Homo sapiens: one gene and its partners. The protein of the gene in region 3 interacts with the protein of the main gene of each other region in a pairwise test. Each region holds a gene or a part of one and is shown on either strand. Other genes may lie near its edges. The genes, in order: PTPN9, SLC35A4, CPLX4 and PLN.

The links.
Region 1: the proteins of CPLX4 (region 3) and PTPN9 interact in binary tests that used the Homo sapiens proteins (3 or more experiments, as listed by UniProt).
Region 2: the proteins of CPLX4 (region 3) and SLC35A4 interact in binary tests that used the Homo sapiens proteins (3 or more experiments, as listed by UniProt).
Region 4: the proteins of CPLX4 (region 3) and PLN interact in binary tests that used the Homo sapiens proteins (3 or more experiments, as listed by UniProt).

Annotation. Positions count from the first base shown.
Region 1 is NC_000015.10:75,576,188-75,584,116, forward strand, and holds the start of PTPN9 (tyrosine-protein phosphatase non-receptor type 9), read right to left. Parts: upstream 3,129-7,929; 5' UTR 2,590-3,128; coding exon 2,527-2,589; intron 1-2,526. UniProt on the Homo sapiens protein: Protein-tyrosine phosphatase that could participate in the transfer of hydrophobic ligands or in functions of the Golgi apparatus.
Region 2 is NC_000005.10:140,560,210-140,568,163, forward strand, and holds the start of SLC35A4 (probable UDP-sugar transporter protein SLC35A4), read left to right. Parts: upstream 1-4,618; 5' UTR 4,619-4,634; coding exon of another isoform or gene 4,635-4,649; intron 4,650-5,663; coding exon of another isoform or gene 5,664-5,762; intron 5,763-6,355; coding exon of another isoform or gene 6,356-6,553; 5' UTR 6,554-6,960; coding exon 6,961-7,935; 3' UTR 7,936-7,954. Other genes in the region: APBB3 (amyloid-beta A4 precursor protein-binding family B member 3), read right to left, coding at 104-295, 430-545, 809-892, 1,156-1,240, 1,378-1,513, 1,635-1,640, 1,891-2,018, 2,144-2,290 and 4 more; SLC35A4 upstream microprotein, read left to right, coding at 4,635-4,649, 5,664-5,762, 6,356-6,553. UniProt on the Homo sapiens protein: Mediates the transport of CDP-ribitol. Does not exhibit CMP-sialic acid, UDP-galactose and UDP-N-acetylglucosamine transport activity.
Region 3 is NC_000018.10:59,315,531-59,323,487, forward strand, and holds the start of CPLX4 (complexin-4), read right to left. Parts: upstream 3,120-7,957; 5' UTR 2,933-3,119; coding exon 2,766-2,932; intron 1-2,765.
Region 4 is NC_000006.12:118,543,816-118,551,556, forward strand, and holds the start of PLN (phospholamban), read left to right. Parts: upstream 1-4,480; 5' UTR 4,481-4,577; intron 4,578-7,741. UniProt on the Homo sapiens protein: Reversibly inhibits the activity of ATP2A2/SERCA2 in cardiac sarcoplasmic reticulum by decreasing the apparent affinity of the ATPase for Ca(2+).

The DNA of each region.
Region 1 (7,929 bases), on a different chromosome or scaffold from region 3:
CAACGCTACACTTCAGCCTGGCAACAGAGCAAGACTCAGTTAAAAAACAAAAGGGTACTTCTGGCTGTGTGCAGTGGCTCACACCTGTGATCCCAACACTTTGGGAGGCCAAGGCGGGTGGATCACCTGAGGCCAGGAGTATGATGAGACTAGCCTGGCCAACACGGTGAAACCCCATCTCTACTAAAAATACAAAAATTAGCTGGGCATGGTGGGTACCTGTAATCCCAGATACTCAGGAGGCTGAGGCAGGAGAATCGCTTGAACCCGGCAGATGGAGGTTGCAGTGAGCCGAGATCACGCCATTGTACTCCAGTCTGGGCAACAAAACCCAAACTCCGGCCAGGCGCAGTAACTCACGACTGTAATCCCAGCACTTTTGGAGGACGAGGCGGGCAGATCATGAGGTCAGGAGTTCAAGACCAGCCTGGCCAACATGGTGAAACCCCGCGTCTACTAAAAATACAAAAATTAGCTGGGCATGGTGGCAGGCGCCTGTAATCCCAGCTGCTCGGGAGGCTGAGGCAGGAGAATCGTTTGAACCCTGGAGGCAGAGGTTGCAGTGAGCCAAGATCAGGCCACTGCACTCCAGCCTAGATGACAGGGCGAGGCTCTGTCTCAAAAAAACAAACAAACAAACAAAAAATCAAAACTCCATCTCAAAAAAAAAGAGAGTACTCTTATGTGATATTAAACTAAAATATGGTAACATTAGGCATTACCATAATTAGAACTATACTGCTTTTGTTTCAATATTTTGAAATGCTTGTAAAAAAATAATATTTTGTAGAAAAAAGAGATAAGATTTTAAAAACACACACACACACAATCTCTTGACTTTAATAAACATTTTGCCGTTTCCATCCTAGTCCTTGTTAATGCCCATCACATTCAATTCAGGGTAAAAGATAAGGTTTTTACTAGTTAAACACATCTGTATATATGTGTATGCACTATGTACAAAGTAAAGCCAATACCATGTCAATACTATCAATACTTTAATATTTACTTTTCCTGGTTTTAGTTTTCAAATTTGCAACGGATGCTATTTGCATAGAATACTGATGGCTTTAAGTCTTAAAAACAGAAATCTGACTGACCCAAGGAAAAGGATGAAAGAAAGAGATTTTGTCCCTTTAAAATCAGCCAACACATCCTATCTTAGTACTGAAGTACTTCCCAATTCTGGCAGAATGGGCTCCTTGGCCACCTGCTTGCACTAGGGTCTGACTAGCATTTTATTAACATCCAACTGCAGTTACCAGGACATTCATTACCACTGCTTGTACAAAGCAGAATTCTTTTTAAATTTTTTTCCCATACAGATTTCATCACCAGGTGTCAAAAGACAAAACCGTGGCCTGAGGCCAAATAGAAAAATGTCATCTCCACAAATAAGGAGAAAAGACAAGGACTTTAAAAAATCAGGTCAACAAGCCCATTAGCCAATAATAGTTTGTAAAACTGGACTGTCTTCACACTAGAGGCTGTGCTAGCAAATGTGGTCCTTGGAAACAAGAGCTGTAGAGCTTGAAATGGGTTGCCAGCATGGTTTGCCTTTTTCTTTTTTCATGTTTATTTTTATTTTTTTTATTTATAACATGGAATCAGACTATGACTATAATCGAGCATAGCTATGGCGGGGTATGGGCAGTGCCAAGGAAGAGACAGCGAAAAGCCCGTAGGGTTCCCAGTCTAAGCTAGCAGACCTTCCCATCTTCCTCAGGAGTGGTCCCTGTCTCCGCAGCTGGAATGTGCGGGAGGGAAAGTTACAAGGGCCCCCAAAATGAGACAGCAAACCACTTCCTTCTGAAAACTAAAGGTCATAGGCTTTTAAGGAACAATAGAGCTCAATGTAAGCTTCAGAAAGATGGAGACAGTCAGATGAGACGAGGGTAGGGAAGCGCGGGTGAGGAGATGCGCCCCGTCTGGGATAGCTGAATAGGGGGGTCAAGGCCAGGGACTTTAGGAACACGAGAAGGGCTGGATCTTCCATAACCTGCCCAAGTGGGCCTGAGAAACCTAAGAGGCTCCTCTGAAAATCTAGGGCATCTATGCATCCAATACTCTCAGCCCTCTCCTCGGGAAGGGAGATAATCCCCACAGGAAGCACCCCCCAAACTGGGGCTTTTCCTGCCCTTCAAAAGCCACAAACCCTCACGGAAAACATTTACAAGGGAGTGGAAGGGCCGGGGGCAAGCAGCGGTTCTGCAAATCTCGGGAAGAAGGCCCCTGGATCCAAGGAACTTTGCCCCTGGAATAGGGGGTGGGGTGCGGAGGGCACCGTCTGAGGCTGGTAAGCCTCGGCGAAAGAAGCGGCGGGAACGGGAGTAGGGTCCCGTGGGTCCCCCGACGAGGGGGTGGCGGCCTGGGGCGCGGTCGCCGGTGAGGGAGGCCCGCGAGCCGGGCACGGGAGCGGGGGGCTGCGGCCCCGTGGCTGCAAAGAGCCGGCACTCGGGAGGCAGAGGCCGGCGTAGGCCTCGGGGGCCCGGACACACCCAACGCGGCGGCCTCGGGCCCGCTTACCTGCTCCTCCTCCGGGGTCAGCTCCGGCGCCATGTCGGGCCGGGGCGCGGTCGCGGGCTCCATCCCCCCGCCACCGCCGCCGGGCGGACAAAACTCGCTCGCGAGCGCGGGAGCCCGGCGCGCTCGGCCTCCGCTTCCGCGTCCCCGCGCCTCAGCAGCCCGGGGCCGGCTCGCGCATAGTGTGGCCGGCAGGGCCCGGCGCCTGCAGCGGCCGCAAACGCCGCTTCTGCTTCCTTAAGAAAAATCTCTCCGAACTGCCGCTCTCTTCCGGGAGGAAATCCTTTTTTATATTATTCGCTCCGTTCCTCACACTCCCCCTTATCTCCTGGGGAAGAAAAAGTGCAGGCGAAGAGCTAACAGCCACTCGGGATTTAAAAGGAAATAGGAAATCAGGAACTTTTAGAGCCGGGAGCGAAGGGTCGGCGGAAATTTCCCGAAGGCCGCCGACCCCCTCGGCGCCCCGCTTCCTCGGCCGCGCTCCCGCTCCTCCACAGCGCCACAGAGCTCGGGGCCGCCCAGCCGGGCCGTCCTCGCGGACGCTGGCCCTGCGACCTGCGCGGCTGCCTCAGCCAGGCTCCTCGCGGGCGGCCGCAGCGAAAGGGAGGGAGTGGAGAGGGAGCGAGGGAAACGCGCCCCCCTCCTGACTCACGGCCAACGCTGCGGCCGCCCCGCGGCCGCCCGAGCCCCCCGCGGCTCCATTGAGAAACTGAGCGTCTCATTCACAAGCTGGCGGCGAGGAGGGCCCGGCGGAGCGAGGACGCAGTCCGGGAGGGGGAGACAGAGAGGAGCCCGGGCGGGGGAGGGGACCGGGAGGGGGAGGGGACCCGGGCGGGGAGGGGACCCTAGCTGGACGGAAGGCAACTCGACTGCGGGAGGGAGAAAAAGGAAGAAAAGAGTATTTCGTGAGGCTCAGATCCTCGGAGGAGGAGGAGAATACGTTCGTTTGCAAATTATCTGCTGACTGGCACCTCTCCTGGGGTTAACTTGCCGCTGCCACCTACGCGTGAGAAACCCACAATCCTCAACTATTTGTCGCTTGCAGCCTGAAAGACCCTGGAAAGGTTGCCTGCCAGGCCAGGATGCTTAGGTGGAAGGAATCGCACCTGCCTCCCTCTCTCTCCCTCCTTACTGGCTGCACCCTGTAATTCATCTCCAGTGTCGCTAATTTTAATCCCCCATAGAAACGACATCAGACTCCGAACATCATTCAGGAATGACGCGGCCTTTGCAGACCTTTGATTTTCACTAGGGCAAGTGCAGCAAAGGGTTCAGGATTAGGGGTACAGTCTTGGAGTCATTTGGGGAGGAATGGGGCATAGAGAAGGCAAGGCTGGGTCTGGTACGTTGTTGCATTATTCCAAGCCAAAGATAAATATTCCAAAGGGACCCAAAGTCCACAACTAGTTCCAAGGCTGAAGCCCTGGAGCCAGTCCTGAGGGACCCAAAGGAGGGGCCTTCAGACAACAGGAAGGTGCTGTGAGTTGTGATGCTCCTATGATTTTTTTTTTATTTTTTTTTTTGAGACGGAGTCTCTGTGTCGCCCAGGCTGGAGTGCAGTGGCGCGATCTCGGCTCACTGCAACCTCCACCTCCCGGGGTCAAGCGATTCTCCTGCCTCAGCCTCCTGGGTAGCTGGGATTACAGGTGCGAGCCACCACGCCCGGCTAATTTTTGTATTTTTAGTAGAGACGGGGTTTCACCATGTTGGTCAGGCTGGTCTCGAACTCCTGACCTTGTGATCCGCCCGCCTCGGTCTTCCAAAGTGCTGGGATTACAGGCAGGCGTGAGCCACCGCGCGCCTGGCTTTTTTGTTTTTCTTTTTTTGAGACGGAGTCTCACTCTGTCACCCAGGCTGGAGTGCAGTGGCGCGATCTCGGCTCACTGCAAGCTCCCCCTCCCAGGTTCACGCCATTCTCCTGCCTCAGGCTCCCAAGTAGCTGGGACTACAGGCACCCGCCACCGCGCCCGGCTAATTTTTATTTTTATTTTTTTTATTTTTTTGTATTTTTAGTAGAGACGGGCTTTCACCATGTTAGCCAGGATGGTCTCAATCTCCTGACCTCGTGATCCGCCCACCTCGGCCTCCCAAAGTTGTTGTTGTTGTTGTTGTTGTTTTAACACAGGGTCTCACTTTGTTGCCCAGGCTGGAGTGCAGTGGCGTGATCACAGCTCACTGCAGCTTCAAAGTCCTGGGCTCAAGCAATCCTCCCGCCTCAGCCTCCTGAGTAGGTGGGACTACAGGTGCACACCACTGCACCTGGCTAATTTTTTTTTTTTTTTTTTTGGTAGAGATAGGGGTCTTACTATGTTGCCCAGGCTGGTCTCAAACTCCTGGTAAACTGCCTTTGCAAAATTATAACTGATGATTTTATGACAGTGAAAGAAATCAGACCTAACTGACTCTATCTTGTTTCTAACCCTTAAGCTGTCCTTGTTCATTCCTGGGCATAGGCCGAACTAACTTTGGGAAGGAATTCAGTTCATGGTTTGACTCTGAAACAAAATTGATAATAGCCCTTTCCCGAAAAGACCCCCTTCTTCCCTGGGGTCCAGTCTGCCTTTGCAGGACTAACAGATTAAGCTACAAGATTAGAAATTACAATTTAGGGGTCATGCAGCCATGGGCTCCAAGAGTCTAAACCTCCCCAAACTGCTCCTGGGGATAACATCACTATTGTAAAACCTAAGATCAGTGCTTGAGATATTTTGCAGACCCTGCACCCAGTGCATCAGCTGATACCATCCAGACTGGTAATCTGGCCCAAATAGGTCTGCCATCCCAACCAGGAACAGAAGACAGCAAGAAAAACTCATTTCAACTCCCTATGATCCAATCTCAAACCTGACCAATCAGCACTCTCCACTTCCTAAGCCCCTACCCACCAAATTATCTTTAAAAACTCTGATCCCTTAATGCTCCAGGGAGACTGATTTCAGTAATAATAAAGCTCCAGGCCGGGCATGGTGACTCACGCCTGTAATCCCAGCACTTTGGGAGGCTGAGGCAGGCGGATCATGAGGTTAAGAGATCGAGACCATCCTGGCCAACATGGTGAAACCCCGTCTCTAGTAAAAATACAAAAATTAGCTGGGCATGGTGGCGCGTACCTGTCGTCCCAGCTACTCGGGAGTCTGAGGCAGGAGAAGCGCTTGAACCCGGGAGGTGGAGGTTGCAGTGAGCCAAGATCGCATCACTGCACTCCAGCCTGGCGAAACAGCGAGACGCTGAATCAAAATAATAATAATAATAATAATAATAAAACTCCACTCTCCTGCACAGACGGCTCTGTGTGAATTACTCTTTTGCCATTGCAATTCCCCTGTCTTGATATATCCGCTGTGTAAGCAGCAGGCAAGGTGATCCCATTGGGCAGTTACACTGGGCTCAGGCGATCTTCCTGCCTCAGCCTCCCAAAGTGCTGGGATTACAGGTGTGAGCCACCGTGCCCAGCCTTCTAGGATTTTTGTTTTTGTTTGAGATGGAGTTTCGCTCTTGTTGCCCAGGCTGGAGTGCAATGGCACGATCTCAGCTCACTGCAACCTCCACTTCCCAGGTTCAAGCAATTCTCCTGCCTCAGCCTCCCTAGTAGCTGGGATTACAGGTGTCTGCCACCATGCCTAGCTAATTTTTCGTATTTTTAGTAGAGATGGGGTTTCACTGTGTTGGCCAGGCTGGTCTCAAACTCCTGACCTCAGGCAATCCACCCGCCTCAGCCTGCCAAAGTGTTGGCATTACAGGCATGAGCCACCATGCCCGGCTCCTTCTAGGATTTTAAAAACAATCCCTGACCTCAACTAATTTCTGCATTAATGCAATAGGAACTTCAGGCTGCCCTTGGTAAGAATCAGAGACGATATCCTTGGTATTTGAATCTTTATCTCAGCTAGGATATTTTCTCCTTTGCATCAATACAGCTGACTGGAGGTTGACTTCATCACTCCTTTAGTTTCAGTATTGTAACCAGTCTGGAATACTTTTTTTTTTTTTTTTTTTTTTTTTTTTTTTTGAGTGGAGGTCTTGCTCTGTTTCCCAGGCTGGAGTGCAATGGCGTGATCTCGGCTCACTGTGACCTCCACCTCCTGGGTTCAAGCAATTCTCCTGCCTCAGCCTCCTGAGTAGGTGAGATTACAGGCGTCCACCAGCACACCCTGCTAATTTTTGTATTTTTAGTAGAGACAGGGTTTCACCATGTTAGCCAGGCTGGTCTCGAACTCCTGACCTCACGCAATCCGCCCACCTCAGCCTCCCAAAGTGCTGGTATTACAGGCGTGAACTACTGCATCCAGCCTGCTTTCTTTTTATTGAAGTGTAATATACAGAAAAAGTACAAATATAAGTGTACTGCTTGATGAATTTTTTTATTTTATTTTTTGAGACAGGGTCTCACTCTGTTGCCCAGGATAGAGTGCAACAGCACAATCCTGGCTCACTGCAACCTCTACTTCCTGGCTCAAGCGATCCTCCAGCCTCAGCCTCCCAAATAGCTGGGACTATAGGTGCGTGCCACCAGGCCTGGCCCATTTTTATATTTTTTGTAGAGATGGGGTTTTGCCACATTGCCCAGGCTGGTCTCAAACTCCTGAGCTCAAAGCAATCCACCCACCTCAGCGTCCCAAAGTGCTAGGATTACAGGCGTAAGCCACTGCACCCGGCCAGATGAATTTTCATAAACTGAACACACTCGTGTCTGTGCCCAATGCACAGATCAACAAATAGAATATTCTGAACTTGCCAAAGCCTCGCCTTTTGCCCATCCCCCACCCCACAGTCAGTTACTACTCTGCTGAAGGGTAACCACTATCTTGCCCGTTTTTTTTTTTTTTTTTTTTTTGAGACAGGGTCTCTCGCTGTGTCACCCAGGCTGGAGTGTAATGGCACGATCTGGGCTCACTGCCACCTCTGCCTCCCGGGTTCAAGTGATTCTCCTGCCTCAGCCTTCAGAGTAGCTGGGATTACAGGCATGCACTACCATGCCCATATAATTTTTGTGTTTTTTTTAGTAGAGACGGGTTTTCACCATGTTGGCCAGGCTGGTCTCGAATTCCTGACCTCAAGTGATCCACCCACCTTGGCCTCCCAAAGCTCTAGGATTATAGTTGTGAGCTATCACTCCCAGCCTCAGGCTTGAACTCCTGGGCTCAAGTGATCTGCCTGCCTCCCCCTTCCAAAGTGTTGGGCGTCAGCCACCGTGCCGGGCCAAGTATGCTTTTTCTCCCTAGGCAAGCAAATGGTTCTAGGACTAAACTGGAGTAAGAAACAGCAGGACCTGAGTAGTACAAACCATTGATTGGAGACAGGAGAGGATGGAGTCTCTCAACTCACTATTTACACTTCACATTTGTTTTGCCCACTGATCCTCAGGACACCAGGGGTCAGTGATTTATCCAAAGTCACACAACTAAA
Region 2 (7,954 bases), on a different chromosome or scaffold from region 3:
CCAGGTTTGTGATCTCTGAAGAGGCTGCCGACCCGGAGCCCAAGTAAACAGTGGAGAGCAGCTGCAGGGCAATCCCACCAACCCATTCCCACCCATGACTCACCATACAGGCAGCCTGCACAGCTTCAGAGAGTCCCCCTGCATGGGGCTGGCACCAGAAGGCTGCGCACTGGAAGCTCTGACGGCCCAGGTCAGCGATGAGGCCAAAGGTGTGTGGGTCGCGGCCAACACCAATAAATGTCACAAGGCGCACAGGGCACTGCCACAATGGCTCCTCCTCTGTACTGGCCTCTGCCTGCCCACACCAGGCCTAGTCACTAGAGGGCCAAGCACGGGCCAGACCCACTTAACTTTTCCGACAGCAAGCAGTGACCCCTCAGCATCCCTGCTCACCCCTCCAAAGCCCCCAACTTCACCCTCTTCTGGTACCTGAATGGGGTGTGCAGTCATGAGAGAGTCAGACACACTGAGCATGGTGGGGACCCAGGCATTCCGGTCCCCCCTGGCGGTGAGGGTACCAATGGCCTCGTTCAGCACATCCATGCCTGGGGGAACATACCCAGCGTGTCTCCCAGTGTAAAAGAAAGAGTCTGCAGGGAGTGTCTAGCCCCCTCTCACTGATTTGGGATTCAGAGATAGGGAATAGGATAGCTGGGGCAAGCCTTAGAATTCTGATTTGGGAAGGCTGGTAGACCCCAGGCCATAACAAGGCCACGGGAGGACTCTTGAGAAATGATAACAGGCCTCACCTCACTCACCTTCCCCTTGCCTCACACAGCCCACCACATGCAGCCCCCTCAGTCCTCACCCATGGCCTTGGTGACTGGCAGTGTCCCCATATACAGTGCCTCGTACTTCTGAGCAGCTTGGCTTACCGCATCCAGCAGCTCCACTGAAATATACACACCAAGTTGGCCTGGAAGCTCTTTCAATTACCCTTTTCCCCACCCTTCTCAATGGGCCAGGACTCAGGTCAGAGCTGGTGCTGGTAGAAGAAATGGCTCATAGATGCTCCTCCAACTAGTGGCTTGGGATCCCTGAGACCAGACATCTCAGAAATTTATCCACAGAAGTATTAAATAACCAGAAATCGCCCCCCCACAAAGCAGCACCAAAGCACCCCAATGCAGCAATGCAGGTCTCCCCTCCCCATACCTTGCCGTGGCAGGTCTTCAGGAGAGATGGGGTCTGGGGAGCAGCAAGAGGCATCACCACTGACCTCTACTCGCTCTGACAAGATCTAAAACACAATGAAGCCAGCATGACCCACAGGGAGAGAGGGGAATTAGGGTAAAAGGGCCAATACCACCCCAACTACCTTGGAAGCTTCAGACCCAACCCCTTACCCACATTCCCTGCCCCACCCCTGACACTTACCTGGGCACAAAGCCCATGTAGGGCACTGGCAATGGCCTTGGCAGGGACATCACAGCAAAACACATGGCACTTGAGCATACAGCTATCTTTGTCACTTGCCACAAAAGCGAAGTCCCTAGCAGGGGCAGAGATGGGGCTGGGGTAGAAGCTGGTTAGAGGCAGGAGCCTGCAGGAGGCTGGAAAGTCAGGCTAGGGATATAGCAGGGATGGAGTAGGGACATCAGGGATGGGGCTCAGGATACCTGGTTTTCACTCACCTGTCACTGTTCCGGAAGCATGTGGGAGCACAGAAGGGAATCAGCCCAGCCTCTCGGACTCTCCCCAAACTGTCCCTGCTGAGCTGGGCCCACCCTCCCCAACCAGGGCTGGACCAGGCAGGGGAAGCAGTCCTGGGTCCACATCAGAGGATCTGTGTCCAGGGGTTCAAGTACTGGGGATCAGCATCAGTGGGGATCACAGCCTGCAGCCGGGAGGGAGAAGTAGCTCTTGCTTGGGGGATGTAGGCATCCTCACCGGCCCTTGGAGCTCCCCACGCCCCACACACGGATGTGCACCAGAGGCTGGCAGTGGATCAGACTGTGGTCCAGGGGATTCACTAGGCTCATGGCATCCTTCTTCAGGATCATCAGCATGTTCTGGCCCTGCCAAGGACAGAGGTCAGCCCAGAGCTCAGATAAAGGTCATTGCCATGAGAAATAGGAAATTCAGGGACAGCTACCTCTGCTGGGCCCTGGGCCCAAACCATTAAAGGGCCCAGCCAACTCACCTCACCCCAGGCACCATCTGGAGGCTGGCTCCGGCTGCGGGTCTGGGCCAGCTGCTGGATACAGTTATTGACTGCAATACTGCTCTTCCCCGGTGCCAGGTCCTCTTCAGGTACCTCTACCCAGCCCAGAGAGCGGACTGCAAAGCACTGACAGGTTGGGGGAAGGGACAGGAATTAATAAGGATGGAGTAGGGTGGCAGGTGCCACAATACATACTCCCTGTCTTCACCCTTGATCACCTCTGTTCAGTCCAATCCCACCCTTGTCTTTCCCTTGGGACCTCCCAATGCCCTCAGGCCCAAGTCACTACCTTAGCCCCTGGCTCCATGCTCTGGATGTAGGATTCCCCACCATACCAGGACAGAGAGTTACTGAAACAGAGCAGAGCTGTTAAGAGGACCACATTTCCTACAGTAGGGACACTGGTGAGGCCTAGACAACTTGATAAGCACAGGATGAGGGGCAAGACCCAGAATATAGCACCAGAAATATAAAACCAGAGCAGGGTAGAGCCCAGGACATATTAACGTAACATAAAGTGTGACTCAGAATTTGAGGGAAAATTCAGGACATAGGACCCAGACACAGGACATAGAATAAAAGTCACAAGGCTAGGTGCAGTGGTGGCTCACGCCTGTAATCCCAACACTTTGGGAGGCTGAGACGGGTGGATCATGAGGTCAGGATATCGAGACCATCCTGGCCAACATGGTGAAACCCCATATCTACTAAAAATACAAACATTAGCTGGGCATGGTGGCATGTGCCTGTAGTTTCAGCTACTCAGGAGGCTGAGGCAGGAGAATGACTTGAACCTGGGAGGCGGAGGTTGCAGTGAGCCAAGATCGTGCCACTGCACTCCAGCCTGGATGACAGAGTGAGACTCCATCTCAAAAAATAAAAAATAAAAGTCACAAAATAGAACAGGGTCCAATATGTGGACCAGAACCCCAAAGTGGGACAAGAGACCCTAGAACAGAGGACTTAATGGCCAAGGTCTAGAACATGATAGGTTAGGACCAAGAATATGAAAAACATGTAGCTACAAACAAGAGCTTAGAACAAGGGATAAAACTCAAAATACTGACAGTTAAGAACCTGGGACAGAGCCAAGAACGTAACAGAACCCAAAACATGTGACAGAATCCAGAACCTGGGCTGGAAAGCAGACCATGGGTCCAGCTGCATTTTTGAACACCATGGAACCCCAAGCCTTTCATTTTGCCTGGGCCACCCGTTACCTCCGGTCCAGTGAACTCTCCAGGCTGGAGAAGGATCTCCCTTTGGGGGGCCGCAGTCCCCAGATCCCCTCCGTTCCCTGTAGAGTGGGAGTTAGTCAGTTTAACAGCAGACCTAGGTCCACACATGGGCTCAGACCTCCTCCTCACACTCTACCTACCGTGCCTGGGTCCTCTGCATCTCCTAGTTCCCAGGTTGGGCGCTGCCACTGGGTGCTACCGCTGGGTACATGCCAGTAGTAAGTACCTGCAGCATCGTGGATCTTCCTCCAGCCAGGAGGCAGGCCAGCCTCCACCTCCAGACTGTGGTCCCCCCACAAGTCATCTACAGGAACACCGGATTAGAGAGGAGGGAGCATATGATTTGTGAGTTCAGAATAACATGCTGTCATAATCCCCTCTCCATCCCCAAAATGGGTCAGTTCTTAGGCTGAAGATCCAGGCTCCTCAATCTTGAAGACATCACATGTAAAGACCGGGTTCATTCGCCCCCTGGTCCCTACACAGAGAGGTATCCCCCACCGTCTTTGAGCCCCAGAGTAGCCTTTCGGATTCCCTCGTCCTCCCTCAGCTCCTGGTCTTCCCACCGGGCCCCTCCGTGCACACCATCGCAGTTGACCAGAATGATGGCCAGCATGTAATCCTTGCCCAGCATAACCCCGGCTGCTCCCCGCCAGCCTCTGCCGGCCCGCACTCTCAGCCCAGCGCGACCTCTGGAGCTACTGCGCCTGCAAGCCCAGCCTCTCTGCGCCGCAGGCTGCGGGGCCAGCTGGCGCCGCACAAATACGGGGCGGGACACGGGGCGGGACACGGGCCGGTCCCGGGGGAGGGCCTGAGCCGCACAGCCCGCCCAGGGGTGGTGCGTGTAAACGGGCGTCTGGATCCCCGAATGGTTGCGTGTTTCCGTGTGTGGGTCCGGGGGAGGCCCACGAACGCCAGCGAAACCGCTGACACCACCGCCCAACTATGAACTCATCAGGCGCCTGAAGACCGACACGCCGAACATGCGCCGCGCGCACTCGCGCACGAGTGAGATCATCGCGCCCCGGTCGTGAGTGCGCTCACACGCAGCCTGAGACTCGACGGGAGGGGGTCACGTGGAAGTATCTGAGAGAGGCGTACTTGGCCACTAGGAAAGCACCTCCCCCTTTCCAAAAATGCTCCGGAAGTGCCTTCGCCCTCCGTAAAGATGGCCGGGGCAGTCGGCACGAGGGAGGCGGGGATGCGCCTGCGCAACAAGTTCGGCGGGGAAGATGGCGGATGACAAGGTGAGTGGCCGTGGGGGTGATCTGCAGCCGGGCGTGGTCTTCACTCTCCTTGACCTTTTTAGTTCCGGGGAGAAGCGACTCTGGAGCGGCTCAGGAGTGAGGATGTCCCTTGTTTCTTCTGCGGCTCCTGTCAACTGCCTCAACAGTGTGGAGTGGTGTGGGGAGAGCATTCGGCGAGGCGGGAGGAGCCGTGGATCCCCCAGATGTCCCCTCCTGGGAACCATCACGAACCCGTTACTAGCACAGACTCAAAAACATTCACCCTTAAACACTCCTCACTTTACCCCATTCCCTAGCTCCCGAAATTTTCTTCCCAGTGACACGATGTTTCCAATCACACGGACACTCACACCACCCTCATTCAAACACTCCTTTGCATACATTCTGAATTTCATACTTATATGCGATCAAAATCACTCAGTCCATTTACTTACACACTTGCCGACAGTCTTTTTTGTCATTCTCAGTCACATCCAGTCACTCACATTCAGTTTGGGATGTCCTTGGGAAGAAAGAGGTAAAGCCCATCCAGGAACCAAGACAATAAAATTGTCCAGGAAACTGCCTCGGTCCATTACTCACCATTGGTCTAGAAGCTCAGCATTACCCACACATTTACTAAATGTCAGGCACTAGAACATAGTAGCCAAGACAGACTGGTCACGACTTTCAAGGAGCTCATAATGGAGTCAGTAGTGGTTTCCTGATGGACCTAATTAAAGGTCCCTAGCTGTCCCTCCTGCCTTTCCTACATACTGCTTGCTATATAAAATTCTTGTCAAGGTTGATGTAAGTTACTGGTTCAGATCCCATCTGTCAGTCCCTTCCTGGCCCTCATTTGAATTCTGTGCTTTTCAATGCTTGTCTTTCTTTGCCACTGCCATCTCAGGAAGCTTTTATAGGAAAAGGTCTTTCTGGCTCACCCCATCCCCTCCCAATTCCCAGCTTCTGATGGAATTGAGCAAGGGGTGGGGCTTAGTCAGACTGCTGGAGCCAGCCTCTCGCTTGTCCTAGGATTCTCTGCCTAAGCTTAAGGACCTGGCATTTCTCAAGAACCAGCTGGAAAGCCTGCAGCGGCGTGTAGAAGACGAAGTCAACAGTGGAGTGGGCCAGGTAAGGACTGTCCCACCCCACCCCTGCCTTAGGCTTTATTGCCCAACATGCTCTTGAGAGTGTTAAATGGATGGTAGAGATTTCTTCAGCAAGTGATTATTGAGGGCCTATTCTCAGTCACCCTAAGGACAATTTTTCTGAATGGCACATGAACTAATATCTTAAGTAGTGGTTAAGTAGGTGAAGAGGGGAGGAAAGAACATTCCAGGCAGAACAGCATATGTAAAGGCCTTGTGGTAGGAAGTAGCATTATAAACATGAGGGGTGAAAGGAGGTCCATTTGGCTACAGTAGTTGGGGAGCATGCTAGGAAATGAGGCTGGAGAAACCGGCAGGGCTAGGGGCATCTCTGACCTTGTGTGGCGGTGGAGTTCTATGGTTGGAGCTTTCTGACCCCAGGGTTCTGAGATTGTGTGATCAGAACTGCTTGGTTCTTTTTCTGGCCCCAGAACCTTGGGAAAAATCTGGAGAAAATACCACGGTTGTCCAGGGTGAGGAGGAGCTGGTGGTGGAATGCTCTAATCCCAGCTTGAGTAGCCCCTGGACAGTCAGGAAGGAGCCTAGCTAAGTTTCCTTCTGCATTTTTCTCTGCAGGATGGCTCGCTGTTGTCCTCCCCGTTCCTCAAGGGATTCCTGGCTGGCTATGTGGTGGCCAAACTGAGGGCATCAGCAGTATTGGGCTTTGCTGTGGGCACCTGCACTGGCATCTATGCGGCTCAGGCATATGCTGTGCCCAACGTGGAGAAGACATTAAGGGACTATTTGCAGTTGCTACGCAAGGGGCCCGACTAGCTCTAGGTGCCATGGAAGAGGCAGGATGAGCAGCTCAGCCTTCAGGTGGAGACACTTTATCTGGATTCCCCAGCTGTCATCCATTTGCTATCTCCAACTTTCCTGCCACCTTCATCCTTGCCTCCCTTCCTGCAGATTGTGGACAGTAGTTCCTCAGCCTGCACCCTGGATTCCTTCTTCCCCTTCCTAGCTCCATGGGACTCGCCCCAAGACTGTGGCTTCAAGGACCACCAGCCCCTTACTCTTCAAGCCCTGACTGTGGAGTTGGTAGATGCCTCTGATCCTCAGTATTCTCTCTGGCAATGTTCCACGGCTTCTCCTTCCTGGGAGCTGGCTCCATAACTTGATTTTCCCCAAACGTGTTGCAATCCCTGCTGCCCCTTAGCCACCCAGGGTCTTGTGTGGGTATGAGTGTAGAGGATGGGGGTATGCCAGGCCTGGGCCGTCCCAGGCAGGCCCGCTGGACCCTGATGCTACTCCTATCCACTGCCATGTACGGTGCCCATGCCCCATTGCTGGCACTGTGCCATGTGGACGGCCGAGTGCCCTTCCGGCCCTCCTCAGCCGTGCTGCTGACTGAGCTGACCAAGCTACTGTTATGCGCCTTCTCCCTTCTGGTAGGCTGGCAAGCATGGCCCCAGGGGCCCCCACCCTGGCGCCAGGCTGCTCCCTTCGCACTATCAGCCCTGCTCTATGGCGCTAACAACAACCTGGTGATCTATCTTCAGCGTTACATGGACCCCAGCACCTACCAGGTGCTGAGTAATCTCAAGATTGGAAGCACAGCTGTGCTCTACTGCCTCTGCCTCCGGCACCGCCTCTCTGTGCGTCAGGGGTTAGCGCTGCTGCTGCTGATGGCTGCGGGAGCCTGCTATGCAGCAGGGGGCCTTCAAGTTCCCGGGAACACCCTTCCCAGTCCCCCTCCAGCAGCTGCTGCCAGCCCCATGCCCCTGCATATCACTCCGCTAGGCCTGCTGCTCCTCATTCTGTACTGCCTCATCTCAGGCTTGTCGTCAGTGTACACAGAGCTGCTCATGAAGCGACAGCGGCTGCCCCTGGCACTTCAGAACCTCTTCCTCTACACTTTTGGTGTGCTTCTGAATCTAGGTCTGCATGCTGGCGGCGGCTCTGGCCCAGGCCTCCTGGAAGGTTTCTCAGGATGGGCAGCACTCGTGGTGCTGAGCCAGGCACTAAATGGACTGCTCATGTCTGCTGTCATGAAGCATGGCAGCAGCATCACACGCCTCTTTGTGGTGTCCTGCTCGCTGGTGGTCAACGCCGTGCTCTCAGCAGTCCTGCTACGGCTGCAGCTCACAGCCGCCTTCTTCCTGGCCACATTGCTCATTGGCCTGGCCATGCGCCTGTACTATGGCAGCCGCTAGTCCCTGACAACTTCCACCC
Region 3 (7,957 bases):
GTTGAATTTATCATTTAATAATTTTATGGTCATTGATATGGTCATTGCCAATCTGGGTCATGATACAGAAATCTTCATCTACTTTCAAGTTGCAAAGATATTCTCCTACTTTTTTTTCTAAAAGCTTTATAATTTTGGCTTTTATGTTTACGTGTATGATGCATGACAAATTAATTTTTGTGTATAGTGTTAAGTAGGGGTCAAAGTTCAATGTTTTTCAGTTGTTTAGCACCATTTGTTGAAAAGACTTTCCGTTCCTGGTCTGATTATTTTGGCGCTTTTGTTGAAAATCAAATAACTATAAACCCCATTGATCGATTTGTTGATACTAATGCCACGCAGAGTTACATTCCAGTCCTCCAGAGCCAGTCTACAAATCACGCAGAAAAGCTGGTTGCTCTGTTTATAGTCACATGCAGCTAGCTAGTCTCCCCCCACCAAGTAAAGTGTAAATTCCTGCAGAAGAAAACCCATCTCTTCCATTTCAGTACATTCCTCACAATGCTATGCTCATACTAGGGGTCCAAACAATTACTGAATAAAACAAAGGTCAGAGTCAAGTTACAAATGATATTGTAGAAACTGTTGAAGCATAACTATGGCAAAGAAGCATTTTAATATAATTGAGAAAATGGCGGGAGAAACAGACTATTGTTTTATTTCCTTTCCAGATAGTCTATTTATGTTTAGACCTCTTTCAGTACTAATGTTACCAGTGGTGCGTGCGCACACACACACACACACATTGAACACAGAAAGAAAATAAAAATGAATGTGCATTATTAAATAGAGTGCATTGCTAAATAGTTTTTTATTTATAATTCATATAGTCTCCCCACTTCCTACAATGATGAGGATGGGTTTAGGAGGCTTTCATTTGCTAACATTGATTTTAATTATTATATATACTAAACTGTTTGTAGCTCTCTCTGCGTTTATCTTGTGATGAATTATTTTTAATGCCTACTACATATTGCATTCTAGGTGGTGAAATTCTTGAAAACTCAAACAATGGACTGAAAGTCATCCCTCTTTATCATAGGGAAGCCAAATGCTCCATTGTCCTGACACTATTTCTTACATTGAGTGACTACATAAATATATAATATTCTCACACACATATGCAAAAAGCTGAGTAGCTGACAACTCAGTCTGCTGATTGACTGTATGATTTGGCCATTTTGAGCTTTGATCTGTCCAGATATAAAATTAAGGAAAACTAGGACATTAGTTAATCAAATAGATGCCTTATCTGCAATCGGATCTGCTGCTTGAACATATTAGGTGATATTTTGCATGCTCACAACTGTAGTCTACATTTCTGTTTTCATTAGCCTACTTGATCTGAGAATGTTTGATGCTGATTTTTGTCTTCTATCCTTCATTACACAGTACTTATTTTGCTTTTAAGCTTTTTGTTCTTTTGCATGCCATAGGTAAAATCAGCCAATATTCAAGGAATGCTGCTTCTTTTGCCCAAGTCTTAGCACCATCATTTTTGCTAGTTGCATTGACTGTTTTTTAAAAACCAACTTTAAGTTACTGCAGAACCAAGCATAATGTATTCTAGGTAGTCTATAAGCCATGATTTCTTTCAGAAAAATACAATAGACAAGGTTTCCACTAAACGTAGTCTTTGTACTTTCTTTGTTTCCTCCAGGTCATTAACCTTTTCACCTATAATCATCTTAGCGATAGGATTTAGGCAACTATTATGTAATTGATCATTAGCAAAAGAGTCCTGGTGGCAAAAAAGAAATACTTTTCTTTTGAAACATATGATAAACATTTAACCTCTAGATTGATGTTTCATTTCTTAACTGATTATTAAAAGAATCTTAATTCTACCTTAAACATTTAAAAATTACACAGAGATTACATTTATTTCAGAATCAGTCTTCAAGTGGTGAAAAGTTGTTGGTGATATTCACATTCTATAATACCCAATTAAATGTTGCTTATATTTTATATTTTATTTTTGTTATATTTTATATAGCCAAGAAAATGCCTTTATTTTTTGGAGGAAGGTGGCTGAAGTATTTGGGGGTGAAGTACATGACATCTGTAATTTACTTTAAAAGCTATTATCTACCATCTATCTTTTTAATCTTTAAGCAAATGTAGCAAACTGTAAGCTGTTGATTTTATGTCATAGGTATATGTGGGTATTTGTCCTACTATTCTACTTTTCTGTATGTTTAGAATTTCCATATTAAACAGTCCACAAATCCATTCATAGTCTTTGATAAGCCAAGTCTTATGACATAATTGTCATGTTATGCTTCCTGGGTTTTTTTTTTTTTTCTCACATGCAAGATCAAAGAAGCTGCCCTCTATGTTATTTTAGGCCCTTTTCTAGGTATAAGGTCTGAATTCTTACAATTTGAAGACTTTCTACGTGCTAAGAGGGTGAAGTTTAGAAAGAATGTAAAGATAGTTAAACCTACCACTTTTCATCTAAATAATTAAATTGAGGTCAATCAAAACATGCCTAGACCAGAAAGTGTTAAGCTGCTTTAAGAACAACATATAGATTCATTTATTATTGTTCATTTCCATTCATACATGTAGAACATAGAACATAGTAGCTGCTGATGTTAGGGAACCGTTTACTTTAGAAGAACAACCTTTCCTTGGGTTAGAGGTAAACGGCAAAAGGAAAGGCATCTTAAAAAGCAAAGAGAAATAAACTGGAGAACTGAAGAAGGTATGGCCAGAATGAATTTCCTTTGCTTTTTAAGGGAAATGAAATAGCATGTACTCACTTCTCCTCAATCATTTGCTTTTGATACTCCTCATACTCCTCTCTAGTCATCCCTTGAGCTGCTGCAGGATCAGATGCACCTCCTTCTTCTTTATTTTCTTCAGACCCACCACCAAATCCTAAATTCTTTACCTGGTTACTTATCATACTTTTCATAAGGAAAGCCATTTTCTCTGCCCCAGAAAAATAAAACCAAAATTCAGACAAAAGCTGAAAAAAAAAATCCAAACAAACCCAAGAGAAAACCTCCAAATATTCTCAATGACAGCAATACATTTAAGAGCAAAGGACTTTGCACAACCTCATCTATTCAAGGGCATACTGATAGAGAAGAGTGGTTTGTCGGCCGTAAGCTGGATTAAAGTGGTGAACTCCTTAGTATATAGAGGCAGATGGTTCAGATTACCGAAGCATACAATCAGAGGCAACTGCCTACCTTCTGAATTAATACACTCAGCTAATTTCACAGGAAAAAGAAATCCCCACATCATCTACCCCTTTCTAAATTTTTAATTATAAGCACAGCAGGGCTTCATCAAGAGTCCTGTTTCAATTAAATTAATCAGAGCTGACTGATTATATAGCTGTTGTGGAATTTCCAAATTCCAGCCCTTGAGCAAAACATCCTGTTGAAAAACTGAGTCCAATGAGACTCAAAACCCAGAATGCTTCATTAAGCAAAAATAATCCTTTCGATCCATCATTTTATCTCATTGGACTTTAAGTACTATGCAAGGATTTGCTTTTTAGTTTGCTTGAATTCGGTTTGCTTCAATAGTTACTGTGTCCCGCACATAAATACACAACTGACAAATGCAAAGACCCAGACAGCAGGTCCTTGGTTTACATCTGGAAGATTATCTTAGCCTTCTCCTGCATGGAAATATTACTTGTCTATATGGAAATGATGTGCTTGACACTTCAAGGCTCTGATCCAGAAGGTAAGACCATTATGTGAGTCAAATCATCAATATGTAAGGGGTCACCTTTTTTCTCTTGCATAAAGAGTGCACCTCCTGGGTGCTCTATTTAAGCTCACTGGTGTACTTGGATGAAACTGACAATGTTTTGTATCCCACCAGATTCTCTATGGCTGTGGTTTTCTTCAGGTCAAGGGAAGAGTTGAGTATGGCTAAGACTTCAATCTACACTAGTATCTTTCTAATTAAAGCCTGCCAAAGAGGGTGGGGTGGGAAGGAAGAGATGTAATCCATTGTTATTTTATCTGAAGGCATGAGTCCTCTCAGAAACCAGGTGATTATCTCTCTGATCATATAGAATTACATAATCTGGATTCTTGCCTAAAATGCTTGCTTTATATATTTTATCGTCTGCTTTCCCTTTTAGTAATCTATTTTAAAATGCTGCTTAAATGGTCTCAATATGAAAGGCTAAAAAAGATAATTTAGGGTGAAATATAAGCTGTACTCAGGGCTTCGAGGAGAATGCCCATCAATATTGAGTTCCACTTTCTCTTTTAGATGGGTTGCTTGGAACTTAACACGTTCATACCATTATCTCTAAATTACCATTTATAATAAACTACATTGCAGTCCACTGAGGAATGTTACTAATTAATGTTGTCTCATAGAACTTTTCAAACCATAAAATAAAAGCCACAGCCTTGTGTTTCTGTCTGTTCGGTCTACATTTTATTATAAGTAATTATTTAGATTTATTATAAAATCTATTCTAAAAATTCCATTGTATGAGGAATTAGGAAATATTAATGGTGAGGGTGTCAATTCTAAACTCCAGCACCCATGTGTAAAGGAGTTTCTCCCTGTCCCGTCCTTTTCTGAATGTATGTTTGTGTGGAGGGGGTTAGGAAGAGGGGGTGTCATGCATTATGGGGACTCTTCGGTGGTAGCTTCAGCAGGGTCGCCGTGGAAGGTCTCCTGAGAGTGCTTTATGAAATCAAATATCTTATTATTTCCTCAACAGGTAATTCCATTGAGAATGAGGTCACGACTTAAAAAACTTTTTACTCCTTGATTTATTACAATGACCTTTGCCCTTGGACATCCAGGAACTACTAGCTGGTGTGTAGGATCTTTTTTTTTGGAGACAGCCTCACTGTGTTGCCCAGGCTGTAGTGCAGTGGCAGGATCTCAGCTCTCTGCAACCTCCGCCTCCTGGGTTCAAGCGAGTCTCCTGCCTTAGTCTCCCGAGTACCTAGGATTACAGGCATGCGCCACCATGCCCGGCTAAGCTTTTGTATTTTTGGTAGAGACAGGGTTTTGCCATATTGGCCAGGCTGGTCTTGAACTCCTGACCTCAAGTGATCTGCCTGCCTCAGTTTCTCAAAGTGGTGGGATTATAAGTGTGAGCCACCAAGCCTGGCTGTAGAATCTTGTAGAAATGGTGGTAGAATCTTCCGTTCCTTCAGAAAGGGGAAATGAATGCCCTGGATTCATGAATGGGACCTCTAGGTGTCCCCATCCCATGGCTCCCTACTGTCCTTGCATAGAATCCCCACTCCTTGCTGCAAGATTGCCCACTGCCTAGCTGCCAGCCTCTTCAGCCACACTCCCTTTGCTCATTCTAATCACATTCATGTCCTTGTTGGCCCTTAAACCAAGATTGCTCCCACCTATGTCCTTGTGGAACCTCCTGGCCTGTATTGCTCTTCCACATCTCTAGGTGGCTCACCCTTGCTTAATTCAGGTTTCTGTTCTCATTCACCTTCTTAGAGGGACTTCCCTGACCATCCTAAGATACCCTGCCTCCACTACCCCACCTTTTAATCCTCTATCCTATTCTATTTTTCTTCATAGTACTGCACTCTACCTGAAAGTATATTTTCCTTGATTTAGTTGTTTCCTTTCCATCTACTCCATTGGAATGTAAGCTCCATAAGAGAGACCAGTGCAATTTTGTTCACCTTTGCATCCCCATCTCTGAGAATCATGCTCAGCACATAGTAAGTGATCAATAAGAATCTTGGGGGAAAACAATGAATGAATGATTGCCACTAGGCCTAATGGCTTATTTTTGAGCAAATCGCTTTCAATGGAAGTAATCAAGGTACTACATCGGATGATGGAGGCACTTGGAGAGTTATCTTCAGGCAAAAGGGAGACAGGAGAATAGGGTCTGGGGGCAGGGAACCTAAGGCCAATTCATGCTGACTTCCTAGAACTAAATTAAAAGGAAAACCCCAACTTTCCACACCTAAGTAACAAAAGGACTGGAAGCTACTTCCTTACTCCCTTTGCAACTCCCGGCCCCCCACCCCCACCCCGACCCCCACCCCCACCCCCACCAACTTTTTCTACGTGGCAGATGGAAAATTCAAAGTATCTCTGATTGGCTGCTTTCTGCAGCCAATCAGACATTTGGATAGGAGTGTAACTTTGTAACTTCACTTCAGCCTCTAATTGGTTGCTTTCCACAACCAATCAGATACTTGCATAGGGTGTAACCTTTGTAACTTCACTTCAGTCTCTGATTGTTTGCTTTCCGCAACCAATCAGACTGATTGCAGGCCACTACTTCATTTACATAGGGTGTGCACCAAGTAACCAATGGGAAACCTCTAGAGGGTATTTAAACCCCAGAAAATTCTGCAAAGGGGCTCTTGAGCCCCTATGGTGGGGCCGCTTCCAGTCTGTGGAGTCTACTTTTGTTTTCCATAAATCTCTGCTTTTGTTGCTTCATTCTTTCCTGGCTTTGTTTGTGCGTTTTGTCTAATTCCTTGTTCAAAATGCCAAGAACCTGGACACCCTCCACCAATAACAGAAGTAGCATCTTAGTGCTTACAAATCCACCTCATAGTGGTTGCTGCCTTCTTTGCCAGCTCCCAGGATCAAGACTACTTGCCATAGTTTTTTAAAATCATGCCTCATTCTGATTTAATGGATCACCTTTGTAAACACAGATTCGTTGTGGCCTATTCAACTTGAAAATTTTGATGGTATCTGACCCAAAGAATTTGCTAAAGAAGCAATAATCCCATTAGTGGAATTAAATTTTAGAAAGAGATCACATTCAAACAGCATAAATCCATTTTGGTCCTTCACCTGGGATTTTTCTTTTCACATCAAATACCTAAATTTTGCTCCTGTAATTAAAATCGGCTAGTGGTATCATTTCTTTTTTGACCTTCCCCAAGGAAATCATGGTGATTAGGTTGTCCTGTCTCAGTTGTTATATCCTCTTAGCGGGTGACACAACATTTCAGGGGTAACCATGCAGCTAAACCTCTGTGCTCATGAAGGTCAGCAGAACTGAAGAAGAAAAAGGTCACCAAGCGCCAAGGCATGTGTCACCACACTTGGCTAATTGGCTAAGTGTAGAAATGATCTAAAGATGAGATTCACTGGGATTAATTTTCAACCTCTATTTTAACTGGGAAAAAAGAGGTAATATAAAAAGAGGAAAAAGTCTTGGGAAATAGAAGGACCATTACGGAAACCACAAAGGAAATTAAACACGTAGTCCTAATCCTAATAACTGCCTACTGGAGACATTTTAGTGGTTTGTGTTTTACCTAATAGAGTGTCATGTACATCATAGATGCTTAATACATATTTAATGAACTGTATTGAAATGCCAGGCCAAGTAGCATGTTTGTTTTCATTTCTATAGGATTGGTTAATATTCTTGTAGATACAAACTCAAGGCTATATACCAGCTGTGCAAAGAAATTCCCCAATCATGACAGTATGGTTTTCATTGAGCTACAGAACCAAAGAGTCTCTTCAGTACTACCTTGGCCCATTGTTATCTGATAGATTGTGAGACCATTTGTGACTCTGTGGAGACTCAAAGCATCTCAATCCTTTGTCTCCCAAAGTGGCCATTTTAAGAAATGTATCCCGGGCTGATTCTTCTGTCTTCCAGAAATATTCAGCAGTGTTATACCGAACGTTTCAAAATCTGTGTGTGAGTGTGTGTGTGTGTGTGTGTGTGTGTGTGTGTGACAGGGTCTCACTCTGTCACCCAAGCTGGAGTGCGTAACCATGGCTCATTATAGCCTTGACCTCCTGGGCTCAAGCGATCCTCCTGCCTCTGCCTCCTGAACAGCTGAGACTACAGGCATGCACCATCACACCTGGCTAATTTTTTATTTTTTGTAGAGATGAAGTCTTGCTATGTTGCCCAGGCTGGTCTCAAACTCATGGGCTCAAGTGATCCTCCCACCTTGGCTTCCCAAAGTGCTGGGATTACAGGTGTGAGCCACCATGCCTA
Region 4 (7,741 bases), on a different chromosome or scaffold from region 3:
TCTCAGCATGTGAATGACAATCAAATGTGCACTTGGATATCAGAGTAAAAACTGAGTAGGAAAGAGTCACAACGAAGGGTAGAAAAACTAGTTAATAAACGTCTATGAAAGTTAAGAGGAGAGTTGGTCAGGCTATGAGAACAAAGACATATTTCACAATCTGCATTTGGTTTCTAAGTGAATGGGGAGTCTGGCAGAAGACAGAAAAGGTATGAGCCTCCAATTTCAATTTTGTATCAAAATCAGTGATAGTGCCACCACAAAGTTTGCGAATGCGAGGAGCTCAAAGGGCTGAGATATCAACCACAAAGATAAGAAATTTAATATGTCTGGAGAAATACTACAATCATTAAATTGAAATAGAACCTTCTTAACAATGTAACAGCATCATGATCGGGACCCTATAGAATTTTGAAGCAAGTATTTGGAGACCTAAGGGTTGGTTTTTGTTGTTAAATTTGTTTTGTGATGTATGTGTTTCCCTTTGTTATTTTTGGCTTTGGTTCTGTCCGTTTCCTTTGTACAAAACATGCACTTCTCTTAGAAGTCATACTGCTTATTATTACACGTGCTCATTTGACTCTCAATTGGGAATTTCTTTTTCTCCTGGTGTTATCTTGCACTAGTGGTTACCTTCTAAATGTTAAATTTTCATTTCCATATTATTTGTATACTGATAAACCATAATTTCCTTGAAGCCACGTAGCATGCTATAGCATTTCTATCACTTAGAATGTTTAATAACTTTCCAAAATTTATGTAGACCTATATGAGTCCTTTTCTTAATCCATCTGGCCTCTCTTAATGTCAATGCTCTTCTCCACCCCTCATCAAGATGAGGAAAGAGAATTTGCCCAGAATTCAGATATTTATGAAAAAATAAAATGTTTGGGTCTCCAGGTTATCTGGCAAATCAAGTGAAAAGTGAACCTACCTCCCCCAAATGACCCCTAAGCTTTATAGGTTACTTTATCACTGGGTTATATCAACAGCCCCCCAACTCCAGTTGATGAGTAAATCTTATTTTCTTTTCCCTATTGCCCTATGGAGAGAATTTCCATCCTCTCAATCTCAGACCACTAATTCTTATTCGCAGTTTTGCTTAGATGTTTTTTGAACCAGTCCTTCCCTACGTAGCTTTAAAATTTAAGGCAGTAATTATCAAACCCTCAAGTACCCTCAAGAGATAGGTAAAATCTTCTTCCTGGGTGTCTAGGAGATCTAATCTAAAAAAAGCTCCTTATCTTTGATGTATTGTGAACATTACAAAAATTGATTCAAAGCTTGCATTTTACTGTATCTCTGTCTAAATATTAAAATGCTTTAATTTAGTCATCACTTATATTAACTTCTGGTCAAAAATTTCCAAAAACCGATTCTATTTTGAAGCTTCTTCGCCCTCCGGATACACCACTACAGACTGGAGTTTAAATGCTCAATGTAAAAGATTACTACATACATCACAGTGCCCTTCACAAAACGTTAGTAATATAGCTGGGCGCGGTGGCTCACGCCTGTAATCCCAGCACTTTGGGAGGCCGAGGTGGGCAGATCACGAGGTCAGGAGTTTGAGACCAGCCTGGGCAATATGGTGAAACCCCATCTCTACTAAAAATACAAAAGTTAGCTGGGCGTGGTGGCACACGCCTGTAGTCTCAGCTACTTGGGAGGCTGAGGCAGGAGAATCGCTTGAACCCGAGAGGGAGAGGTTGCAGTGAGCTGAGATCGCACCATTCACTCGGGGCTGAGTAACAGAGTGAGACTCCGCACCCCCTTCCAAAAAAAATTAGTAATACTTTTGAGGAACACATTTAAAATGCTACAAAACTATATAAAAACAAAAGTAAAGACATGAACTCATGATTCAGTTGAAACTGAATACTAAATTTCATTTAGAGCTTAGTAAAAATAAATTTGTAATTATTTTCCCATCCAAGTTCAAAGACACTTTACCCTTAAGAATCCACCTTCTAAAGGAAAAAAGAAAATAAGTGCTAACACTAAATGAACACTGTTGCAGGATCTCTGATAATCACTATGTACACTTCATGTCATTAAACCATCACAAATACTATTCCACAGATTAGGCTGCTTAGGAAAGTTATTTGTATAAAGCCATGTGACCAAAAATACATTCAAACTATAGTGTAACTCCAAATGAAGACTGTGACAAAGCACCTCAAAAAAATTTTCTAGCCTCTAGCTGAGGAATCATTGAGGAACACTCTACTGATAACACTATAACTCATTAATACTCCTATTAAACAACTTTCTGTTTGGGCAATTAAAAACAATGTTCAGTTAAAACTAAAATCTAATACTTCCTAGAGTTCCACATGAGATCATCACCATCATCGTCATCTTCACTAGCTAACCCAAAGGAACAAGGTAAACACAAAAACTCCCCACTCTTGTACCAATCTAAAAAGTAAATTTTTGAATCCATTTTCCAACTGTGTCACACACAGTTGTTAGTATCCTTCTAAGGTGTGTATATGCCTATGTATACTTTTTAAGTAAACTTATAAACATGTGGTAACTAGGGCATATTTTATTCTGTCTACGGCAGCTTCTTGGTTTATCCAACTAAGTATTACTAATTCTATTTTCTTAGAATGAGAAGTTCTCAGAACAATGATCTATCACCTAAATTTCAAATGAATGTGTAACTGGTAGACAAACTTAAAGCAGACTTTCTAAAACTATTAACAGTGCTCAAGAATGCATCTATTTACATCTTAAAAATTTCTCAGTTACTATATGCTACTCTAATGAAAGCTATATTCAAATTATAATTTTTTCCCACAGCATGCCAACAGATTAGGAATTATAAACAGACAGATCTGGATTTGAATCCTGTCTATTCTTTAGCAGCTGGTTATCTCTGACAAATTACTGTAAACCTCGTTAGGCTTCTCGGTTTTGTATTATCAATCATCATTGGTAACTGATAGTACTGAGAGATCCTCATTATGTAAGGATTGAAAGAAAAATGGTTGTAGCACTGAGAAAAGTATCAAACATTATTCTGCAATTTCCTTAACTTGGGTTTTACTTTTAAGTTGTAAATTTTCCCTTGGCAATGTTCACAGGATATCTTTGCTAAAATATTATTTTTCAGTTAGTTTTAAGCTGACTCTTTAAATATCAAATGATTTGCTCTAGAGATGGATTTTCTTTCTTTGGAAGAAGCCAAGATCATTTCCATTTAAGGGCATGTAAGCAGCTGCTGCTACACATTTTAGTTACCCATAAGAAAGTGAAGTGGGCTAAGTTCACTCTGTCATAAGCATTTAAAAAATTAAAAATTACAAGTACCTCCTCTAAAATTAAAGAAGAGATTTAAGAATTAATATTTTCGAGTGTGGTGACTTAAGTAAATCTAACATCTAAGACAACAAATTAGATAAACAGAGAAGAGGAGAATGATGCCCGGCTTTACAAAAAAATTATTTCCCCAGTTCTACTGTAAGATAAACTGTTCTAGGAAGTTCAAAATATCATCTCACTTACTAGCATCTCATTTTTATAGTAATTTTCAGGAAAGCAACTGCTAGATTAAATGAGGCACATCCTTTCAAAAACATTACAAAACTTAAATTTCAACACATCAAACCTATAAAGCCTCATTAACTGAGATGTAACTGATTTGGAATCTGTAATTATTTCTTTTTTGCCATAAAGTTGCCCTTAATACTGCATCAGTTTATTAAAAATTTGGTAAGATTGTGTAATAATTTAATGCAATTGTTTTTAAAAAATCTTAAATACTTAAAGTAGCATATTGCTATTTTGGGGGTGTTGTATGTATCAGTTTAAATATAAGTATTACTATTCACAAATATATTGTTAAACTGCTAATTGAAGAAAACACAAATGAATTAAATACATTTATTAGTTCTTTAACTGTAAGATAAAAATAATTTTTTAAAACAAAAAGCAATTAGCCTGATTTTCTCATACTCCTTCTCCCATACACACAAGAACAAGAACAAAATAAGAAAACAGGTATAAAATTTTATTGTGTAAAAATATTTCACTTTCACTAAAAGCTAACATTATGAAGACACGTATTAAAGCAACAGCAGCAAGAATTCAATGAAAGTTGTTTTGCTTATACCTGTGTTTATTTTTCTCATAATTAAAATTCCTGCAGTAACTATTTTAGCTCTTCAACATCTTCACCATTAATATTCAATTATCTCTAAGCCTGAAGATGCATGAATCTTTAACAAAAGCTTTCCACCACCTCAAGTTTACTTATTTTTTTCATTTATCTACCATATACTGTTTTAAATTAAAAACAAAAGATGAAGCACAAAGTGTTAATGACTTTTCCATACCTAAAGTAAGAAGTTCTAAAGTTTGGTTGTGATAAGACTGAGACTGTGGCTAACCAATCGAAACTTCAGAATTCCTATGTGACATCATAAGACCTCCCTAGAACACTTTTTCTCCTCCACCTACTGCAACTGTTCCCATAAACTGGGTGACAGAGTCAGAAAACTCCCCAGCTAAACACCCGTAAGACTTCATACAACACAATACTCTATACTGTGATGATCACAGCTGCCAAGGTAAGAAACAGATTTCGCTGACTTTGGTAATTCTTACTTTCTATAATTCTTAATTCCTATAATTTCTATAATCTGAACTTTTAAAATGAGTTAATTTTATGAATATCAGTTCAATCTTAGGCAATAAAATGACATGACAAAGTGCTTAAATTTATAAATGCTTATCCATTTAGTGACAGGAAAAATGAGACAACTTTGAAATGAAAAAGGTCATATTCATCTTTGATCCTGGTTACTGGTTTGTCATTTAAATTTATCTTTCACTTTTATTTTGCTTTTCAAATGTGAATTTCTGCCAATTAAAAAATCTTCCAATTATGTTACCATATTTGGTAGTAGTGGTTAATTTCTCCATGCAAAAACAATGACTTAATTTTGTTATTTATTGCTCTGCTGAGAAACAGTGCAGAACTGAGCTATTTACATCTGAACTAATATGAATAGTCATTTGACTACAACATGCACATTATCAGCATGCCTATTCCAATATTATCATAATTTCATACAGTGAATAATGAAATGGAGTTTCAGAATATATAATACAAGCTACTTTTAAAGTGCCCTTGAGGATGTTTCCCCTCTAAAGTCCAGTCAACTTTTAACAAACATTTCTAAAAAAATTCCATGCTATTAATAAATTGAGTTACTGATATTAAATTCAATATTGTATCATAAAGAAGTTTAGAAATTTTAAAACAATGTTCACAAACACAAAAAATCTGACGTTAGAGAATAATTTGATACTTTAAAAAGTTATTTTGACACACGAATATTCTTAACTATCTTATTTTCACACAAATTTGATTAAATGGATTTCTGCCTATTAATGCCTATAGTTTTGTCAAGTTATTATCCTCCAGTGGTACTCCATTTCCTCTCTCGGATTTAGAAAGAAAGGAAAAAATAAAATAAATGCCAGGAATGGAGATGCCACAATCAATTTTATGACTTCTGTTTGAATTCTACCCTATTCTTTATGTTACAATCCTCAATTTAGTAAATGAAACGTTTCCTCATTCTTAGATCTCTGTCAGGGCATACAGAAAATTACATATATTTTATTTATTTTGATTTTCATATTTCATATATATGTTAAAATAAAATTTATCTCTAAAATTCTCAATTCCTATGACAAATGTTAATTCTATTGCTCACTACAAATAAGAACTTTGTAACTCTGTAAGCAGCTTTCCTTAAGACATAAAAAAACATAATTTTTGTCTACCACTGAGGTATCCTAATTGTGTCTCCATATCTCTATACTCATATTTTTCCTTTGATAGTACATAAAAGTCATTCAGTGTAGGTGTCTTATGTTATTTGTGCATTTTTATTCAAATATCTATCAAATTACATTCTCACACTTCAAATTGGGTGTTCACGAGTTATTTTATTGTATCAGAATTTTGCTATATCACATATTACTCTAAAAAGTACACATACTTCTGGATAGAGCAGAAATTATATTAAACTTACCCTTAGCTCACTAGTATGTCTCAGTTAACAGAAATTACAGTTACAGAGACTGCTAAAATTTCAAATATAATGTGGTAGTACCATACATTGTGTCCCAACTAGTTCATCTATACCTTAAGGTGCAAGTTAAGTATTATCTTTGTTTATGAAGACATGTGGTTTCAAAGTAAGTGCTAAAAAAAGTGTTAGATGAAATCAAATGGAAAAAATATGAAAGATGTTTAAATTAAGAAGCATTAAGTTTTAAAAACGCATGAAAGAGCCAGAGTACTTGCTTTACTAAAAGGCGTGACAGCACTATCATTTCCTAAAACTCAAATATCAAATCCATTTTATTTGTATTTTAGTAGGCATAAAGGAAAATGATCACATTTGGGTATATAATCATATCTTTAATTAGTGAGATTAAGAAATAATAAAATATTGCATAAATACAATAGTTTCAGAAAATTTTAATGTATTTTAATGTTTTAATGTACTCATTACACATGTACACTAAATTATGTAATATATTAAATTTTTAATTAAAAAACCTAAAGTCTAGTTACCTCTCCAAATTAGACAATATATTACCAATCCCAGAAATGAGGAGGGCCAATGAACACTTCTTTTTTATTCTTAAAGAGCAATTTCCTAATATACTCGTGTACACAAATATTTCATTTGGTCCTCTTAATTATATATTTGATACTGCATCCCTATTCTACAATTTAGGAAAGATGCAAAAAGGTGAACTGCTCAAGATCACAGAACTAAGAAAACAGGGAAACCTTGGCAGAAGTTTAGGTTTTGTCACTAAGCCACATGCACATCCTCTATATACTGATCAGCATGGCTTAAAGTAAACCATGACACTGACAAACAAAATTTGAAAGCCCCCAAATACTGTAAATGATATTCTAAAAGGCAAAAGGCAAATTCAGAGAATACAAACTTCTATTTTAATTAAAAGCCATTCCACTCCATTTAAATTCAATTTATGCATAGCATTACATTCTTAATAGTCTAAATTATATTCTACTGATCATTTTCAAAACCAGAAATATACGAAAATTACAGATGCCCTTAGTTATTAAGCAATACCTCCTGGAAGGCAAAATTCAAACTAACTGCACAGACTTTAAAAAAAATAACACACCCCAATCAATCAAAGTTTCCTTTTATTTGTTTCATTGCTAAAATACTCATGCCTTCAATTCATCTGATACCTAAAATCCAAGTTAACATCTCCTCAAAACTTTCACAAAAATCACATTTCGATACTTTATTCTAGGTTCCCTAGAATCAAGTAGTCTCTTTGTACAATTTCAAAGTTCTTACCCAGAGTAATTCTGAAGCATGTGTTACCAAATAAACACATGAAAATGAAGCCTGGATGTACAGCATACTCATAGTCAACTGAGGACCTCTAGTGCCTTTGAAAAGGTACTCCATCTTTAGTTTTCAACCCCCAACCCCCGCACAAAAAAAAAGGTTGACTAACTCACTCACATTAATAGGGGGTATATTTATTAAGTGGCATTCATTTTAAATCCTTAAGACTTTCTCAATACTACCTCCCCATATTCTCTTCCCCCAGAAAAGATTCTGAATTTCCAACTCCTACAGGGTTAAGAAGAATATTTTACTTGTAAATACACTTGTAAAGCATTGTTTCAATATTTAAAAAACAATAATGAAGGCAAACC